2 linked regions of the Homo sapiens genome follow. The protein of the gene in region 1 purifies or fractionates together with the protein of each later gene. This does not show direct contact. Each region holds a gene or a part of one and is shown on either strand. Other genes may lie near its edges.

Region 1 (3,500 bases):
TGCCATTACAATTCTTAAATTCTTTTTTGCTATATTTACTGACTTCTTTGGCATGTAAAATCATATTTCATATTTAATCTTCAATCATATTTACATTTCTCAGAGTTAAGAACTGTGTCTACTGCTTCTCTGTATTTTCTCACAATGCCCAGTACAAGTTCTAAAGAATATCTGCTGATTAACTTCAACTTGAATGTAAGTATCTATATAATAGGATATTATCCTTGTTAATGCTTCTGTGTAATGAATATTAAGGTTAAGAGTATCACAAATAATTTTATAGCTAGAAAGAAGTTAGTAAATTAATCAGATTTTTTAAAGAGACAGAGTCTTGTTATGTTGCCCAGGCTGGCCTTGAACTCTTAGGCTCAAGATCTTCCTGCTTCAGCCTCCTGAGTAGCTGGGACTACAGGCATGCACCACCATGCCCAGGAATCTGTAAATTTATTGATGATTAACATGAATGAAATGGACAGAGAAGACAGGACCTTAAAAAAATCTTTTAGTTCACATTTCTATTTTGAGAAGTCTGATTCTCGCATGATTTATGAGAAAGTGATATGCTAAATCAGTTTGCCACAGCCATAGTATCTAACCAAAATGATTTGATGTGGGATTCTACACTATTTAAAGTTTAAATATCCCAATTGTGTACAGATTCAAATCATCTTTGATTAAACCCAAATCCTTCAGTTACTTTCCAAAGTAAAATATACATAAAGAGAATTACAGGCTGTGAGTGGTGGCTCATGCCTATAATCCTAACACTTCGGGAGGCTGAGGTGGGAGGTTCACTTGAGCTCAAGAGTTCAAGATCAGCCTGGCAACACAGTGAGACCTCGTCACTTTTTTTTTTAAAATCAAAAAAAAAAAAAAAGAGAATTATAGGCTGGGTGTGGTTGTGACTCATGCCTGTAATCTCAACACTATGGGAAGCCAAAGCAGGAGGATCACTTGAGTACAAGAGTTTGAGGACAGCCTGGGCAACATGGCAAGACCCCATCTCTACCAAAAAAAAAAAAAAAAAAAAAAGTAGCTAGGCATCAGGATGTGTACCTGTAGCCTCTGCTACTTGGGGGGCTGGGGTGAGAGGATTGCTTGAGCCTAGGAGTTTGAGGCTGTAGTGAGCCATGATTATGCATGCCACTGCACTCCAGCTTGGGAGACAGACTGAGAGATCCTTCCCCCATTCCCCCACACAAAAGAGACAATTACAATTCACAAAGAAAAATGACCTCATCTGCTCAATGGAAGATGTTAACTAACTTTATTTTTTTTGACTACCTGTCACTAGCATTTCCATCTGCTCAGAATTTGACTCATCCAATAACTTCAACTATTGATAACCCTGGTGAGTTCAGAAATGAGGCAGACAGCCTTTTGGCAACAAAAGTAAATAGCATAAATACCATGTTAAACTCAACGACTGTAGTCTTTAGGAGACTCAACTTTATTCTGAGCCCACTGTTTAAAAGAACCAATTCTACATATTCATCATAGCTACAGAAAAAAATAATAAAAGCTGTAAAAGAAAGAATTCTAGACCGGGTGTGGTGGCTCATGCCTATAATCCTAGCACTTTGGGAGGCCAAGGCAGTTGGATTGCTTGAACTCAGGAGTTCGAGATCAGCCTGGCCAACATGGCAAAACCCCGTCTCTATCAAAAATACAAAAATTAGCCAGGTGTGGTGGTGCATGCCTGTGGTCCCAGCTACTAGGGAGGCTGAGGTGGGGAGGTTGGGAGGACTGCTGGAGCCTGGGAGGCGGAGGTTGCAGTGAGCTGAGATCGCGCCACTGCATTCCAGCCCGGGTGACAGAGTAAGAGCCCATCGCCAAAAAAAAAAAAAAAATCTGCAGTTGTTTACCTAATTTCTAAATCCATGCAGATTAAGGGGCAGAAAGGGACTTTACAGCTAGACACACTGACAACTGTGAGTTTTAAACAGTGGGCTTTCTTTTAAACAGTGGGCTTTCAACTGACTGCTGTTAAGGCAAAGATAGGAAAACTATGAAAAACAAAAACCTTAAAATATAACAGTATGGGCTACCTAGTGATGAGGCAAATGGTATCACCCAGTTGAACATTCTCTCCCTCATTCTGGTACAGCCAGTAAAATAACCTTCGCAGTGGTGATTCTCAGACAATAATAAAAATTCAATTGTGAGGCAGGGCATGGTGGCTCATGCCTGTAATCCCAGCACTCTGGGAGGCCGAAGAGAATGGATTACTTGAGGTCAGGAGTTCGAGACCAGCCTGGCCAACATGGTGAAACCCCATCTCTACCAAAAATTCAAAAATTAGCTGGGCATGGTGGCGTGCACCTGTAATCCCAGCTACTCGGGAGGCTGAGGCAAGAGAACTGCTTGAACACAGGGGTGGAGGTTGCAGTGAGTCAAGATTACGCCACTGCACTGCAGCCTGGGCAACAGAGAGAGACCATGTCTCAAACAAGAACAAAACCAAGGCCAGGTGTGATGGCTCACACCTGTAATCCCAGAAATTTGGGAGGCTGAGGCGGGTAGATCACCTGAGGTCAGGAGTTTGAGACCAGCCTGACCATTATGGTGAAACCCCGTCTCTACTAAAAATATAAAAATTAATTGGGCATGGTGGTGTGCACCTGTAGCCCCAGCTACTTGGGCGGCTAAGACAGGAGAATCGTTTGAACCTGGGAGGTAGAGGCTGCTGTGAGCTGAGATCTCGCCACTGCACTCCAGCCTGGGTGACAGAGCAAGATTCTATCTCAAAAACAAAAACAAAAACAATTATATTCAAAATATAGTTAGCCTTCCGTATCTGCAGTTTCCACATCTGCAGATTCAACCAATCACACACAGATAAAAAATACTGGGGGGAAAAAGCCATAAAAAATCAAGCAAATTTTAGGCAAGGCGCAGTGGCTCATGCCTGTAATCCCAGCACTTTGGGAGGCTGAGGTCAGAAGACTGCTGGAGACCAGGAGTTTGAGACCAGCCTGGGTAATACAGTGATACTCTTGTGTCTACAAAAAATAATAAACAAAATAAGCCAAGCACAATTGTGCATTCCTACAGTTCCAGCTATTCAGGAGGCTGAGGTGGGAGGATCACTTGAGCCCAGGAGTTTGAGACTGCAGTGAGCTATGTAACTGTGCCACTGTACTGCAGCCTGGGTGACAGAGGGAGATCCTGTCTATAAAAAAAAAATAAAATAAAATTTATGGTTGGGCGTGGTGGCTCAAGCCTGTAATCCCAGCACTTGGGGAGGCTGAGGTGAGATCATGCCACTGCACTATAGCCTGGGTGACAGAGCAAGACTCTGTCTCCAAAAAAAAATAAAATAAAATAATGAATAAAATTTAGGCTGGGCGCGGTGGCTCGAGGCTGTAATCCCAGCACTGTGGGAGGCTGAGGCAGGCGGATCACCTGAGATCAGGAGTTCGAGACCAGCCTGGTCAACATGATGAAACCACGTCTCTACTAAAAATACAAAAATTAGCCCGGTGTGGTGGTACACGTCT
Region 2 (3,500 bases), on another chromosome or scaffold:
GGCCCAACTTTGCCCTCCCAGCCTTGTCAGCTCTGACCTTGACCAGGAAGTCGCCTATCTGAAGTGAACTCAGGATCTCGCACATGATCTTCAGGCACTCTGCATCAGGGATCATGGGATCAAAGTTCCCAGCAATGTCAAAATCCTGCAGGGAGAGGGTTAGCCAGCGGTCTTCAGGGATTCACCTTTCTGAAGGGGGGACTCTGGGAGCTCTGTCCTCTAGGAAGGCCTGGTTGCACTCAAGCATAGAATTTCTCTTTCATTTTCTGATCATCAGCCCAGAGGTAAACCCCGGCATCTTTGGGCTTCTCACCAGTTTTGGTTTCCTTTCCATCTACTGGGCTATTCCTTCATTTTCTACTTCATCATCTTCTTAACTCCTCCTACTGGATGGGGTGATTATATGGCTTTAGTGCTTAGCCATTTTCCCTATTCATCCAGAAGCCCTGGCATCAGTCTGGATGATTTGATGTATCAAAGCTAATTTCCTTATTCTCTGCTGTGATCCTATCACTGTGGTTTAAAATAAAGAGCACTGGACCAAGAGTTCTAGTCCTGACTTTGCCTTTCTTATCCCTATGATCTCTTCATGGGCTGGGTATCAAGTTTACTCATATGTAAAATGAAGAGACTTTATTCTCCTCCCCCACCACAGGGATTTTGTGAAATCTGCATGAAAACACCATAGAAGAGGCTGGGTGCGGTGGCTCACGCCTGTAATCCCAGCACTTTGGGAGGCCGAGGCAGGCGGATCATGAGACCAGGAGTTCGAGACCAGCCTGGCCAACATGGTAAAACCCCGTCTCTACTAAAAATACAAAAAATTAGCCGGGCATAGTGGCAGGCGCCTGTAATCCCAGCTACTCAGGTGGCTGAGGCAGAAGAATCGTTTGAACCCAGGAGGCAGAGGTTGCAGTGAGCCAAGACTGCACCACTGCACTCCAGCTTGGGCAACAGAGCGAGACTCCGTCTCAAAAAAACAAAAAACAAACAAAAAAACCACCATAGAAACCCTAAGAGCATTATCTGGGTCATCCAATTTGCTCAGGACACCGTGAGTACTCAATAGATTCTGCTGGCTTGAGAGAGCCCCAAGTAACTCATCCTGCCCCACGGTTTCCCAACACTCACACACTGGTAGAATTCCCGGTATCGGCCACGGGTCATGGCTGGGTTATCCCGCCGATATACCTTTGCTATGTGGTAGCGTTTAATGTTGGTCAGTTTATTCATTGCCAAATACCGAGCAAAAGGAACCTGATGACAAAGAGTTAAGGAGAAAGCCCCTCCTATCACTGTCTGCAAGTTGATTATCATCACCAACAGAAGCTGGGGTCTAACCCCTCCCTATGTGGGTAAAACTGCCACCCATAAGATTAATAGCACTTACAAACATCAGAAAGCATCAGCTGTGCTACCACATGAGGTAGCTGAAGGCTCAAAAAAGATTAAGGCACCTTTCCCTTTTGTAGTGTTGACTGGACTTTTTTGAGCATGGCAAGGGGCTGGGCAGGTTGGCCACAGACCAGAAAAAGGCGACCAGAAAAAGGCCCCCATATGGGATTTCTAAGCAGATGATTCTCTGTGTAGCTTGGAGACAAGGGAAATGTGTTGCTAGTCCATTAAGAAGAATTTTGTTCACTGGACAGGGCAGGGGAGAGGTATTCTGGAGCCAGGGGATGACTGTAGAGTTGGAACTGGGCCCTGACATCAAGCTGAGGTCTCACTCAGGATTCAGAAGATTTCTAAGGATGTGTATGCTCTGTTTAGCCAAAGTTCCACTCCTGGTTTAGAGAAATAATTCCCCTAATCGCCAAAGGCCTCATATTTGATCCTACCTACTCTACCATTCTTAAACCTGAGCCAAGTGAGTGCCAATCCATCCAAAGTCTCAAGAGCCCAAGTTTAGAAAGATACAGTGAGGTCATAGCGAAGGGACAGGAGCTCCCCGCCCTGGTCCTTCAGGTCATAGATAAGCTTGGAGTCTTCCCCATACTTTCCCATCAGTGTTTCCTGGAGAAAACATAAATAAATGTGGTCATAATAATAAACATAACAATTTAAAAGGAAGTTTTGAAAACAAACATGACTGATTCCAACTTGTCTACATTTCCCTCTGCTCTTTATCCCAATTCTTAGGTGTCTGATGTAGTTATCATTAAAAGGAAACACCAATTTTGTGTTTTTTTCTATTTTGATTTTGTAACAGAGCTGAAGTATTTTTCTTACACATTTTCCTCTTAAAAATCTTTTTTTTCTTCAGACTTCTCAGCATGAAGTTTGTTTTTTTTTTTTGAAATGGAGTCTCGCTCTGTCACCAGGCTGGAGTGCAGTGGCGTGATCTCGGCTCACTGCAACCTCTGACTCCGGGGTTCAAGAGATTCTCCTGCCTCAGCCTCCAGAGTGGCTGCGACTACAGGCGGGTGCCACCATGCCCGGCTAAGTTTTGTATTTTTAGTAGAGACAGGGTTTCACCATGTTGGCCAGGATAGTCTCGATCTCTTGACCTCGTGATCTGCCCGCTTCAGCCTCCCAAAGTACTGGGATTACAAGTGCGAGCCACAGCGCCCGGCCTGAAGTGTTTTTAAAAGATGCATAAATTCCAGTGAGAAGAAGCTCTGTACTTACTTCCTCCCTCATGTTATACTGTTAGGTGTTTAGGTTATTCTAATTTAAAAAAAAATTTTTTTAGGCCAGGCATAGCGGCTCACGCCTGTAATCCCAGCACTTTGGGAGGCCAAGGCGGATGGATCACCTGAGGTCAGGAGTTCGTGACCAGCCTGGCCAACATGGTGAAACCCTGTCTCTACTAAAAATACAAAATTAGCTGGGGGAGCTGGTAGGCATCTAATCCCAGCTATTCGGAGGCTTAGGCAGGAGAATCGCTTGAACCCGGGAGGCAGAGGGTGCAGTGAGCAGAGATCGCACCATTGCACTCCAGCCTGGGTGACGAGAGTGAAACTCTGTCTCAAAAAAAAAAAAATTCCCCATAACATTTCAATATCTAATATTTAGGTATATAGCTCTTTTTTTTTTTAAAAAAAAGTATTTTTCTTGATGATAAACTACTAGGAATAGGTTATCAGACCAATAAACATAAATGTTTTTTGATGCCTGAGATTCGAATAATGTCAAAAGTAAAAACTGGGGAATGTCTTAAGGGCATTACAGCAGTCCTTGCCCTGTGATGTCTATCATCGGTAATAGCATATTTCACTTACCAGGTTGGCAAAGATTAAAAAGCCTGAAACTTCCCAGTATGCAGTATCAGAAACAGTAACACACTAGTGTTACGGGCTGAACTGTGTCCCCCTGGCCCCACCCTCCCCAATTCATTTGTTTAAGTCCTAACTCCCAGTAACCTCTGAACATGTCTACATTTGGTGATAGGGTCTTTAAAGAGATGATTAAGCTAACATGAGGTCTCCAAGTTGGGCTCTGATCCAATATGTTGTTGTAAGAAGAGAAAATTTAGATAGGGACAGAGGGAAGACGATGTA

What was found.
Region 2: the proteins of PAPOLG (region 1) and HARS1 fractionate together in Homo sapiens (co-fractionation; one large-scale study listed by BioGRID). This does not show direct contact.

What each region holds. Positions count from the first base shown.
Region 1 is NC_000002.12:60,762,768-60,766,267, reverse strand, and holds part of PAPOLG (poly(A) polymerase gamma), read right to left. Parts: intron 1-3,500. UniProt on the Homo sapiens protein: Responsible for the post-transcriptional adenylation of the 3'-terminal of mRNA precursors and several small RNAs including signal recognition particle (SRP) RNA, nuclear 7SK RNA, U2 small nuclear RNA, and ribosomal 5S RNA.
Region 2 is NC_000005.10:140,677,871-140,681,370, forward strand, and holds part of HARS1 (histidine--tRNA ligase, cytoplasmic), read right to left. Parts: intron 2,014-3,500; coding exon 1,918-2,013; intron 1,258-1,917; coding exon 1,132-1,257; intron 146-1,131; coding exon 38-145; intron 1-37. UniProt on the Homo sapiens protein: Catalyzes the ATP-dependent ligation of histidine to the 3'-end of its cognate tRNA, via the formation of an aminoacyl-adenylate intermediate (His-AMP). Plays a role in axon guidance.